Linked DNA regions of Homo sapiens: all the other regions are reported to be linked to region 1. Evidence: microRNA targets listed by miRTarBase, many of them from high-throughput screens and not tested one by one. Region 1 holds a microRNA gene; each other region holds the end of a gene's coding sequence.

Region 1 (4,147 bases):
CTTCTCCGCAAAGTGGATCACAATCACGAAGAAACCAAAGCTTACACTTCCGTTCCCCATATCTCCCACAGATCCAAAAGACCACGGGGCCCAGGACCCGGTCTCCATAGCCCAGCCATACCCGGGGGTTTTCAGGAAAGCCTCACTCGCGTCCTGCCGGGCGATCCGGGGTGGTTGAGTTGGGAGGGGGGCTACCCCAGTTTGTAAGCCCACCACGTCCAAATATCCCATCCAGGAGGCGCAGAGAGCAACCTCAGCATGCATAACAAAGCAGCCCGCGGCCGCGTTCACAGCAGGCTTGGCGGGGGTTCGGGAATTTCCACAGGGTCTCGGCCTCCCCCACTGTGGGCTCGCGCCTGGCGCCCCTCACCGGGCTTCCAAGCGCTCTTGTCGGTGTCGCTAGAAAACTCGCAGAGATTGGAGCTGAGAAAAGGCGGGCAAAGTTCCTTTTGATAAGTTATGAATGGGGAAAAAGTGTTTGTAGAACTCATTGTTAAAACCACGGAGCCCGAGACTCGGCCGGCGCCGGGCCAATCGGAACCCGGAGGCTATTTTGAAATCTCTCCCGTCTCAGCCAACAGGCATGCAGGAGGCGAATCCCCGCGCCAGCGCCGGCCAATGAGCGCAGCGCTATGCTAAGGAGTCGGGGGCCCGGCCCCTCCGACTGTCAGCGGGTTAAAGATGGAGCCGGCAGGCGAGGGGCCGCCACGAGGTGCAGGGTCGTCTGGACGGGGACCCGGGGGCAGACGATGGCCGGGATCCTCTTCCGTCTAACCCTCCGCGTCCTGACCGGGCCCTGGGCGGAAGGGATGTCTGCGTGAGTCAGCTGTGTCTGAGGAGGGGATCCTGGGCTGGGCTGGGCGGCCCTACTCGGCGGGTCAGGCGGAGGGGCGCGGCCGGGATCCCGGGGGCCCTCTTTGGAGCAGGGAACTCTAGAAGGGCGGGGAGCCCCCATCCTCTGCTCCACTCTGGGCCTCCAGGCAGAAGAATATGTTAGAAAAGAATCCAGAGTGTATCTAGTGCAGGGCAAGGGGCCAGGGATGGAGTCGTCAGCTAGAAGGGGCGCGTCGTCCCGGGGTGGGGCCGCCCTTTTTCTCCTGGAGCCGCGGGCCGAGTCAGGGCGCAGGGTCGTCGGGCTGTACCCACCCCGCTCCGGGCGCTAGCCGGCTTTGGACTGCGGCTGAGTGCGGGTTCGTCTTTGTGTGTGCGCCCCCTCCCCTGCGTGGCCCGTCAGCTCCTGCTCCGGGATTGGAACAACCCCCTAGTCTGGGGTTTCTCCTCCACCTCAATCCGGAGCGTTCTGGGAAAGGCCTGGGTGTCCTGGGTTCTGAAGACCCCAGGGACGCACCCCGCTGCGGTCTCCTTCCCTGCCCGGATGGACTGGACGGGGGCTCTGCCCCACCCACCCATCCATGGTTGAGCTTCCCGCCCTGCGTGTATTGGGGGTGGTGGGGTCCCCCCTGCTGGCCGCAGGTGCTCTGACGAGGTTGCACTACTGTGCTCTGAGAAGCAGTGCAATGATATTGTCAAAGCATCTGGGACCAGCCTTGGGGATCTCCCTCCCTATAACCCTCACCTCCCACTCCCCAGGCAGGGCCCCTTGGGCTTGCAGGCCCTCCCCTCCCCCCTACCCAATTCGCTCCCTTCTCCATGGAAACTTGAGATTCTAGACAGGCCTGGGCCTCTGGGGTCAGAGGGCACCCTTTCCCCCCGGGCAGAGGCCCCGCCCCAGCCAGCCTGCATTCCAGGTCTCAGATCCCTGCAGACCACCCTGGGGGAGGCACTGGCAGGCCTGCCCGACACTCTTTCCCTGTTGCACTACTATAGGCCGCTGGGAAGCAGTGCAATGATGAAAGGGCATCGGTCAGGTCCAGCCTGCTACCCTGGGAGGGGGAAAGGGAGCTTGCTGCCTCACTCCACTTTCCAGTTGAGAAGGTTGAGGTGCCCAGAGGGTAAGTGTTTCCACTGATTAGGCACAGATGTGAAGCTGGACTGGACCCTCCATCAGAGGATCAGGTGGGTGCAGAGCTGGAGAATCATCCCTAAACTCTCCATCCTGTCATGGCTGGACAGGTGCAGGAGCAGACCTCCCCAGCTTCTGAAAAGCTCTTGTTTGAAGGTCTTTCCACATTGGGTCCCTGGGGTAAGACTGGAACTCCAGGCCTGGTCAGGGTCTTAGGGGAAATACACGCCCAGTCTTTTGCATGGAAGATCATTCTAGGCCTGGCTTGGGCCCAGTCCTTGCTGGAAGCTTGAACAGGGCCAGGCTCTGGAGAGAATGTTCTTCTGGGTGGCAGTTGGGTAAGGGGGTAAGGCAGGCCTTTCAGGAGGCAGCCTTCACCCCAGGACGTCAGCTGGAGTGGTACTATGGACTGACCAGTTGACTGATCAGTTGAGTGGACTCAGCTGGAGTGGTACTATGTGAGATGGATGGGTGGACTTGGGATACAAAGCCTGCAAATGATGTCTACCAACCATGCCAGTTTGTTCTCTTACAGAGAGGTGTGCCCTGAACCTGCAGGAGGGACTGAGGTGTCTAACATTCCAACCGTCCCAGCTGGAATACAGGGTTGGAGCTGAACTTCCAAGGAGCCTGACCCCAGGCATGCTTGGATGACCACCTCTACCATCAAGACCTGACACGGTGCAAAAGGTTTCTACGTGCCCAGTCACAGTCATTCAAATCTTCTTTAGAGGAGGACTAGGTTTCCAGATGGGCTTTTGGGAGTTCCCCTCATCCCTAGCTGGGCGCATTGGGAAACTGCTTTACCCCTACCCTGGGGAGAGAAGCCCTGGCACCCGTGGGAGGAACAGGGGCAATGACACATGCTCCTTGGCTTCCTAGTCCTGATCCCTTGGGGTTCCTTGATCCTAGGGTCATCTGACTTAGATCCATCCTCCCTTCCTCTAGGCACCAGGGGCCATGGCTGGAGGTGGCCACCCCTCAGTCCTGTACAGATTCTGTACCCACTGGCTGGAGACCCCCATGCAGCTGTCTCCTGCTCTTGCTGCGGGGAGACTGAACTCAGGGCTCTGCTCACTGGCTCCCTCCCAATGGAAGCCTTCTCTGGGCTTCACAGCATTGAATATTCCTCCAGAACAGCTTGTTAAATCAAATTTTTTTTTTTTTAGATGGAGTCTTGCTCTGTCGCCCAGGCTGGAGTGCAGTGGCACGATCTTGGCTCACTGCAAACTCCGCCTCCCGGGTTTAAGCGATTCTCCTGCCTCGGCCTCCCGAATAGCTGGGACTACAGGTGCTACCACACCCAGTAATTTTTGTATTTTTAGTAGAAACGGGGATTCACTATGTTGGCCAGGCTAGTCTCGAACTCCTGACCTCATGATCTGCCCTTCTGGGCCTCCCAAAGTGCTGGGATTACAGGCATGAGCCACCGCACCCGGCCTAAATCAAAATGTTCTCCCTGTGGCAGAAGTGTCCATTAGACTGGGAGCCCCTGAGGCAGAGACAACTGTCATTTAAAAAATCTCTGGCCAGGCGCAGTGGCTCATGCCTGTAATCCCAGCACTTTGGGAGGCCGAGGCAGGTGGATCACCTAAGTTCGGGAGTTTGAGACCAGCCTGACCAACATGGAGAAACCCCATCTCTACTAAATATACAAAATTAGGCTGGGCGCAGTGGCTCACGCCTGTAATCCCATCACTTTGGGAGGCTGAGACAGGTGGGTCCAAGGTCAGGAGTTCAAGACCAGCCTGGCCAAGATGGTGAAACCCCATCTCTACTAAAAACACACACACACACACACAAAAATTAGCCGGGTGTGGTGGTGGGCACCTGTAATCCCAGCTACTAGGGAGGCTGAGGCAGAGAACTGCTTGAACCCGGAAGGCAGAGGTTGCAGTGAGCCAAGATCGCGCCACTGCACTCCAACCTGGACAACAGGGCAAGACTCCCTCTTGAAAATATAAAAAATAAATATACAAAATTAGCCAGGTATGGTGGCGCATGCCTGTAATCCCAGCTACTCAGGAGGCTGAGGCAGGAGAATCACTTGAATCCAGGAGGGAGAGGTTGCGGTGAGCTGAGATTGCGCCATTGCACTCCAGCCTAGGCAACAAGAGGGAAACTCCGTCTCAAAAAAAAAAAAAAAAATCTCTTGGCAGTGTCTGACAAAGAGGAGGGGCCCAA
Region 2 (4,000 bases), not on the chromosome of region 1:
AAAATTTCACAATATGAAATGTAAACCAGCCCTGAACTTGGTAGTCAGGAAAAGCATCAACAATGAAGAAGAAATTGGTTTTTAAAAAAATATTTTATACATCCACCTGAAGGCGCTCATGTGGCAAAACATATTCAACCCCAAAACATATTCAACATATCTAAATGTATATAATCAGAACTGTAAATAGCCTAGGCTATGTGAAAGTACTTTTCACTTCTAAATGAGGACAATTTTGCCCATAAAGTAATTATATCAAAGTCATCTTTTTAAATCAATGATTTAATAACCTTTACCATCATTTTATGCATATATTAGAAGTGTGTAACATTCTCTGGACTTGGGTTTCAATGTGTAACAGATTTTCCTAGACTCATTGAATCAAAAAGCTATTCCAAACATATTAGAATAAGATGAATCTATTGCCAAATATGAAACTATACTTGGAACCAATGTTTCAAATAAAAACTAGGATATTCATTTATGCCTTTACTGACAGACCAAAACTTGAGACAAAAACCAAATTTCTATCAAGAGAAAACCATTCCCACTGTAAACAAATGTAAATTTGAGTTGAGTTTTAAGGTATATCATTCTTCTTGAGATTATTTCAGAGGGATTATTACACATTATCCTGCTTACAAGAACACAAACTGTTTTAGACTCATGCTTGGCATAACATTACATGCTGTAGAAATATAATGCAACGTTTTCATAGAATCCAACTTATTTTTCAAGTTTAAGAGTTAACCTAAAGAATGCACATTTTAAACTCAAGCTCCATAAACTTATAGCTTTTTGTTTGACCAAAAATATGTCAAACGTTTGGGCAAATAGATATAACATGGTAAAAGTAGTTTGAAACTTGAAATATTCTTTCTTTTTTCCTTTCCTCATCTATCCCTTGCTGTATTCAAAAATGGCTAGTTTCTCAGTCTTTTTCATGTTTTCCGTAAAATATAAGAGTAGTAAAATATGGTATACCCATTGGACCATTTGGAAACAATTGAATGGTACATAAATACAAGTTCAAATCAGAGATGTTTTCCCTTCCAAGTTAAGGATGTTGGTCCTGAAAAATAAATTCAGAAAACAAATAGGCACAAAAAGCTCATGGAAAACATGTGCATATTAGAACTTTAACATTTAAATTACAGTGTACATAGTTTTTAATACAGAATTTTAGGCATCTTTGAATCCTGTGCATCATAAATAATGAGTCTTTTTTGCTTTAGCTCATGGGTAAAATATATTAAATACTGACTAATTACAAATCTAATATTTGTTTTGGCATTCTTTTCAATGTTTCAAAACAAAATTATCAGGTTGTTTTAAAATTATGTTTTATTTTTATATTATGAAAATTAAGGCATGAAAATTATACACATCTTTCACATGAGGATTTTTCATTTTCTTCTTGTACCTTTAAAAGTTAACTTAAAACACTTGCCTCAGACTTTTGCCCTTGTAGCAGTATAAACTGGATAATCACTTATGTAGAAAAGATTAATGAATAATTTTTAGCAAGTTTAAGTTTTGGTTCCATGCTTCTTAAAAAAAAATCTTTAATTCCTGCCTCACTTTTCTAACAGGAAATATTAGTAACTGATGAATAAGTAGGTGATAATACTAATGAAAACGTTGGACAAATGTACTGATTATAATTTTATATTGCATTCCTTCATGTAAGTTGGTTACATTTATTGAAAATTAAAAATACACTAGCTATCATGGCAGAATTGAAAATGTAGAAATGTTATGATGTTCTATAACGATCATTATGAATGACTTCCAGGTACTCTATCACCTGAAAAGTCTAAGAATCACAGACTTAACATCTATTATGGCTGTGTCTCAACAGGCAAATAAAATCCTAGGCCACTAACAACTGATCATTCCAATATTCTTCTGGTATGTCAATGTGGTATCACAGGCAGCAAGAGATAAAGTTTCAGTCTTGGCTTTCCAGCTCCAGTGCACACAAATAGAATAAAATCTATTTCATATGACTAGTCCATATAGATTATTTCTCATTATGTTCAATAAATATTAACTTTACCAAAACCATAATTATTTGCCCTTCTCATTGCTAATGCCTTAGAGGTACATTAATATTGAGTAAGACTGCATAGTTGCTGAATGATTTACTAACTTTCTCATTTCATTTTAAGCCGCAGAACAATGATCTTTGCACTTTGTACTTAATTTTCATTTCTTGTAAACAATAACCAAATAACAATAAGACTAACATTATGAAATTTATTTTATTTTCTACACTTCGTCTAACTTTTATTGCTATTATAGCCCAGTTTGATTTAAAGGATAATAACAAAAGAGCACTAAACCAGAGAGTCAGGAGAACTTCATTTGATTTCTCGATCTTTCCTTAAGTAAAGTGCATGATTAGGGCAAGTCTGAGTGTCAATTTTCTCAAAAGCAAAGTAGGAAAAATAGTATTTGTTTCAAAACATTGTCATCAACATTAAGGTGAAATGATGTAAATGGGGATTGTAAATTATAAAGTACTATTCCAATGTATGTTATTACTATGATTCTCAGAATCCTTAAGTTCCTTTATACCATTGCAGTTCTTAAAATGTAGACTCATCCTTGGGCAAAAAAACAAGCTGTGTATTTCTGAACAGAAGTTGCAATAGGTAATTCTGCTAAGGAAATTATCAGGTTGAGACATTGTTTGGATACTCCTTTTCTGTATTGGCAATTCTCTTTTTAAAATGAAAGGATTTATTAAAAATATTTAAGATTTGTACTAAAATTAATTTGTTATATGCCCTCATTAAGATGCTTAAAGTCCAAAATTTAAAAATATGGCATTTTATACATTTTAGCCATGCTTTTTTCTTTCAACAAATGCCATTAAAACAATTTTTATATTGAAATTATTTATAAAACTGTCAGCTATTTTGTACAGGTTTAGTTGGCCACTAGCAATAATCAATTTGAATTCTAGCTATTAAACCTAATATCAACCATAAATGGACTAAATGTCACTCAAAGTTTGAATCTTATGCACTTGGTATCAACCCAAATGCTGCTCAGTTTAACTTGTTTCATTTCCAGAATATTGCCCATGTTTGTTAAGAACTTCAGACACACCACATATACATAGTAAATCTGGTATTCATCATGAATTCACCTAGAAAATCCTGTTTTACAAGTGCATTAGGCCTTCACTAGGAATTAGTATAAGTCATAATGACTGACCTTACATAATGCATTTGTTTATTTTCTTCTGAAAAGTCAGATCATATACTTCCTTAATGCTAAAATCTTATAAAACATGTCTTGCTGCCTTTTTTTCTCTGTGCTTAGCTTAACATACTTCATGCAGTATAACAGAATGTCTTTGAGCCTTTATCTAATAATTAACTTTTAAAATATGTCAAAACAAATTAAGATGTCTCATCTTCATTTTTAATTGTTTTCAGCACTGAGTCTTCTCCCAAAATTTTACATAGTTCATTGAGTCTCTGCTGCATTTTGGGAATTCCAGCTAGCTGAGATTCTAGCTTTTGTTTTTCTTCACTCAATGTCAAACGGATAGCAGTATCCAATTGTTCAAAGCGCCAACCTCCTTCACCATCAAACTGTAATAAATGTGTGTGGTATTTCCTGCATAATTAAAATGAAATAATATTATTAGCCATAATGTTGAAAAATCATTTTAGTTGTAGGTTTATCATTCAAATTGATACCCAAAGGCAAATTTTAAGTAGGTGCTATTTTACATTTGAGTTTTAAGGACATATCAAAAAGTTAAATACTGTGATTTTTTTAAAACCCAAAAGTCATTAATCTGATCTTTAGGAAAATATTATTATTTTTTTCATATTCTGGATGTATATTAACTGTAAAGGAAGACATGCTGTTGCATGTATTTAATTTCTTCATAACTCAATTTGGCTCCTGAATAAATAGTAAGGCATTCTTAGGATGGGAGTAAGGAAAGGAAGCTGAGGAAAGAAAATCAACATTAAAA
Region 3 (4,000 bases), not on the chromosome of region 1:
CCGTCTCAAACAAAAAAAAAAAAAAAGAAAAAACCAGCCAGGCGTGGTGACACAGGCCTGTAGTCCCAGCTACTCAGGAGACCGAGGAGGAAGGAATGCTTGGGCCCAGGAGGGGAGGTTGCAGTGAGCCAAGATCATGCCACTGCACTCCAGCCTGGGCAACAGAGCGAGACCCTGTCTCAAAAAAAAAAAAAAAAAAAAGAGAAAGGGAGGCTCCTACTAATACTGTGCCTGTGCCTGTGAGCTGTGGCCTGAAATCAAGAAAGCAGAACCACACTGGGGCCTGGGACTGTCCCAGACCTGACCTGTGTGAATTTGGGAAGCAACTTAGCATTACTAGGCCTTAGTTTCCTCTTCTGTAAGCCACATTAGTGGGGTAGCCACGGGGAGTCAGGCAGATGACAGCTGTCACAGAGTTACTGCCCAGGGCTCAGCTAGAGGGACACAGCCTGCCAGGGATGGGCCTAGGGAAGGAGTTAGGGTTGTTGACTGCTGGTGGCTTGGTTTGCAGGGGCCTGGATCCCATCCAGACCCTGGTGATTCTGGGGTTGTCTCAGGCTAGGCTGGGCCACAGTGGAAGTTCACTGACTGCCCTGGCCTGGCCAGGCTGTGACTCTGGTTTTGGCAAGGAGACGGCCAAGAAACTGGACTCCATGGGCTTCACGGTGCTGGCCACCGTATTGGAGTTGAACAGCCCCGGTGCCATCGAGCTGCGTACCTGCTGCTCCCCTCGCCTAAGGCTGCTGCAGATGGACCTGACCAAACCAGGAGACATTAGCCGCGTGCTAGAGTTCACCAAGGCCCACACCACCAGCACCGGTCAGTGGCAAGTGTCCACCAGGCAAGGGCGTGGCAGGGGAGTGGGAAGGACACGGGGACTGGAAGTTTGCTGCTGGGCTGACCTAAGGCTTCCCTCCTCTGCTCTGTGACCCCAGGCCTGTGGGGCCTCGTCAACAACGCAGGCCACAATGAAGTAGTTGCTGATGCGGAGCTGTCTCCAGTGGCCACTTTCCGTAGCTGCATGGAGGTGAATTTCTTTGGCGCGCTCGAGCTGACCAAGGGCCTCCTGCCCCTGCTGCGCAGCTCAAGGGGCCGCATCGTGACTGTGGGGAGCCCAGCGGGTGAGTGCCCCCCCCCACTGGAGCAAAAAGGAGCCCCCTGGGGTGGGGGAGGGCTTAGGGAGCCCCTTGCCAAAGCTGAGCTGCCCCACTCCCAATCCATCCGCAGGGGACATGCCATATCCGTGCTTGGGGGCCTATGGAACCTCCAAAGCGGCCGTGGCGCTACTCATGGACACATTCAGCTGTGAACTCCTTCCCTGGGGGGTCAAGGTCAGCATCATCCAGCCTGGCTGCTTCAAGACAGGTGGGAATCAGGGCTGGGGGTGGGGTGGGGGTGGGGAATGGGGCTGGGAATGGTCTTATGGGGGCAGGTCAGGTTTGATGAATGGTCATGGTTTTGGTTGGGGGTGTAGTTTTGGCTGCAGACCTGGCGCGGGTTAAACAGTCCTAATTGGCTTTGGCTCCCCTAGCTGATCCCACTCTGACCTTGCCACTCCTTCCCCAGAGTCAGTGAGAAACGTGGGTCAGTGGGAAAAGCGCAAGCAATTGCTGCTGGCCAACCTGCCTCAAGAGCTGCTGCAGGCCTACGGCAAGGACTACATCGAGCACTTGCATGGGCAGTTCCTGCACTCGCTACGCCTGGCCATGTCCGACCTCACCCCAGTTGTAGATGCCATCACAGATGCGCTGCTGGCAGCTCGGCCCCGCCGCCGCTATTACCCCGGCCAGGGCCTGGGGCTCATGTACTTCATCCACTACTACCTGCCTGAAGGCCTGCGGCGCCGCTTCCTGCAGGCCTTCTTCATCAGTCACTGTCTGCCTCGAGCACTGCAGCCTGGCCAGCCTGGCACTACCCCACCACAGGACGCAGCCCAGGACCCAAACCTGAGCCCCGGCCCTTCCCCAGCAGTGGCTCGGTGAGCCATGTGCACCTATGGCCCAGCCACTGCAGCACAGGAGGCTCCGTGAGCCCTTGGTTCCTCCCCGAAAACCCCCAGCATTACGATCCCCCAAGTGTCCTGGACCCTGGCCTAAAGAATCCCACCCCCACTTCATGCCCACTGCCGATGCCCAATCCAGGCCCGGTGAGGCCAAGGTTTCCCAGTGAGCCTCTGCGCCTCTCCACTGTTTCATGAGCCCAAACACCCTCCTGGCACAACGCTCTACCCTGCAGCTTGGAGAACTCCGCTGGATGGGGAGTCTCATGCAAGACTTCACTGCAGCCTTTCACAGGACTCTGCAGATAGTGCCTCTGCAAACTAAGGAGTGACTAGGTGGGTTGGGGACCCCCTCAGGATTGTTTCTCGGCACCAGTGCCTCAGTGCTGCAATTGAGGGCTAAATCCCAAGTGTCTCTTGACTGGCTCAAGAATTAGGGCCCCAACTACACACCCCCAAGCCACAGGGAAGCATGTACTGTACTTCCCAATTGCCACATTTTAAATAAAGACAAATTTTTATTTCTTCTAAAATGCGGCAGGTGCTGTTTGGAGGGGGTCACTGACTGGCTGGCTGAGTGACACAGTGTGGCCGTGTGACAGGGTGGCAACTCCTGGGGCTCAGCGTGGAGGCTGGGATTCCCCTGGTAGACTCTGGTTCACACCTCCCCCTCCTCCACTGACCTGGGGCAAATCATTTCAGACCATGGGTTTCCTCATAGTGAAATGGGGGTAATGACACTGATCCCAATTGCTTGAAGCAACTGGGGAGGCCAGGGGGGCCTCCAGGGCCAACATCTAGCTCCCCAGGCCTGTATGCATCTGAGCCTCCAGCAGAAGAAGGGGCTATCTCCCTGGGACTCCCCAACCCTGAAGAATCTCGGCTGCTGACTGAGGGAGGGAGGTGGAGGCTTAGGCAGGGTTGCTTAGCAAGGTGGGGTCACGAGGGAAGTTAGGGGTCATGGAGAGGTACCAGGGCCTAAACGAGACAGCAGACAGTTGGCCTTAGAGAGGGCAGTTTTATTGTCTCAGAGGGGCAGGGCTGAGGGAGGGAGCTGAGGAGCAACATCCCCCCAGGCCCCAAGGACACACACACTCTGTCCTTCCCATGGGCCATGGCTCTGGGAGCGACCCACAGAAGGGAGAGGAGGCTCAAACTGCCCCCAGGCCCCAGGGTTCTCAGGTCAGGGAGTTAGGGAGGAACATGAAAGTGACATGCTTCTTAGATACATCAGCGGCTGTAACCACAGGGCTGAGGGGGCCTCCTTGCTCTGGAGGGGGTCTTCGTCCATCCTTGGTGGGGGGGGGTGCCCAGCCCCTTTTCAGGCCTAAGAACAGTCTCTAAGAGGGTCAGGAGAACTGGGCAGCCGCTAGGACAGCGTACTACACCCCGGACAGGCAGGTGAGCCACAGGCTTGTCACAGACCACATACACACACACGCACACACACGCGCACACACACACACACACACACAAAGAGTGCAATTGAGAGCCTTGGGCCAGGACGCTAGAAGATAGGGATGTAGTTGTCGATTTTGGCGCGGTGGCGCTGGGCGATACATTCAGCGATCCACACGATGTTGCGACACTCCTGCTCCTTGAGCTTCACGAAGGCATAGAAGACACCAAAGTGGAACTGGTTCAGGAAGGCCAACTTGTTCAGCTTTACCTGTGGACACGGGCAGATGTGGTGTCCAGGTGGCCATGGCCACAGAGTCAGGTCTAAACCACCAGGTTGGCCTCCCTCTGACAAGCAGACCCTGCAGACTCACCTCGTGCTCAAAGAATCGGTCCTCCAGCGTCTTGTCTCCAGGGTTGCTACCTGCACCCTCGAAGAGCAGCTTGTACTCCTGGCCAGGGGGGTGGGGGGAAGCACAAGCATGAGGGTTCTGGGTGGGGGTGCTTGGTGACAACACATCCAACCGCTGTCCTGCCAGCCGGGGCACTCACCGGGTAGTAATCGGCCACGTTCTTGACCTGTTCATAGTCGTCAGCCCGAGC

The links. Region 1 holds the annotated microRNA hsa-miR-130b-3p (CAGUGCAAUGAUGAAAGGGCAU, at 1,840-1,861, shown strand). A microRNA usually pairs through its seed, bases 2 to 8, with sites in the 3' UTR of a target mRNA and lowers its output. Matches are read on the target gene's strand: a 7mer-m8 pairs with bases 2 to 8, a 7mer-A1 pairs with bases 2 to 7 and ends in A, and an 8mer does both.
Region 2: the mRNA of ABCD2 is a reported target of hsa-miR-130b-3p. The part of its 3' UTR that is shown has no 7-base or 8-base seed match.
Region 3: the mRNA of ATP6V0D1 is a reported target of hsa-miR-130b-3p. Seed matches in the 3' UTR shown: 7mer-m8 at 3,478-3,484.

What each region holds. Positions count from the first base shown.
Region 1 is chr22:21,651,515-21,655,661 of GRCh38, forward strand. It overlaps MIR130B (microRNA 130b), which reads left to right and starts at 1,790; the gene lies at 1,790-1,871. It overlaps MIR301B (microRNA 301b), which reads left to right and starts at 1,467; the gene lies at 1,467-1,544. It also overlaps the pseudogene LOC107985532. RefSeq lists enhancers at 252-922, 923-1,594, 1,131-1,180.
Region 2 is chr12:39,550,499-39,554,498 of GRCh38, forward strand. ABCD2 (ATP binding cassette subfamily D member 2) reads right to left here. Exons shown (of 10, transcript NM_005164.4): 10 at 1-3,633. The coding sequence ends at 3,414. Among named protein-coding and RNA genes, the nearest start is that of ABCD2, 67 kb to the right of the region's middle.
Region 3 is chr16:67,435,022-67,439,021 of GRCh38, forward strand. ATP6V0D1 (ATPase H+ transporting V0 subunit d1) reads right to left here. Exons shown (of 8, transcript NM_004691.5): 6 at 3,950-4,000; 7 at 3,772-3,849; 8 at 2,998-3,668. The coding sequence ends at 3,507. HSD11B2 (hydroxysteroid 11-beta dehydrogenase 2) reads left to right here. Exons shown (of 5, transcript NM_000196.4): 2 at 607-819; 3 at 936-1,121; 4 at 1,228-1,365; 5 at 1,567-2,532. The coding sequence ends at 1,982. Among named protein-coding and RNA genes, the nearest start is that of HSD11B2, 5.9 kb to the left of the region's middle. RefSeq lists an enhancer at 465-966.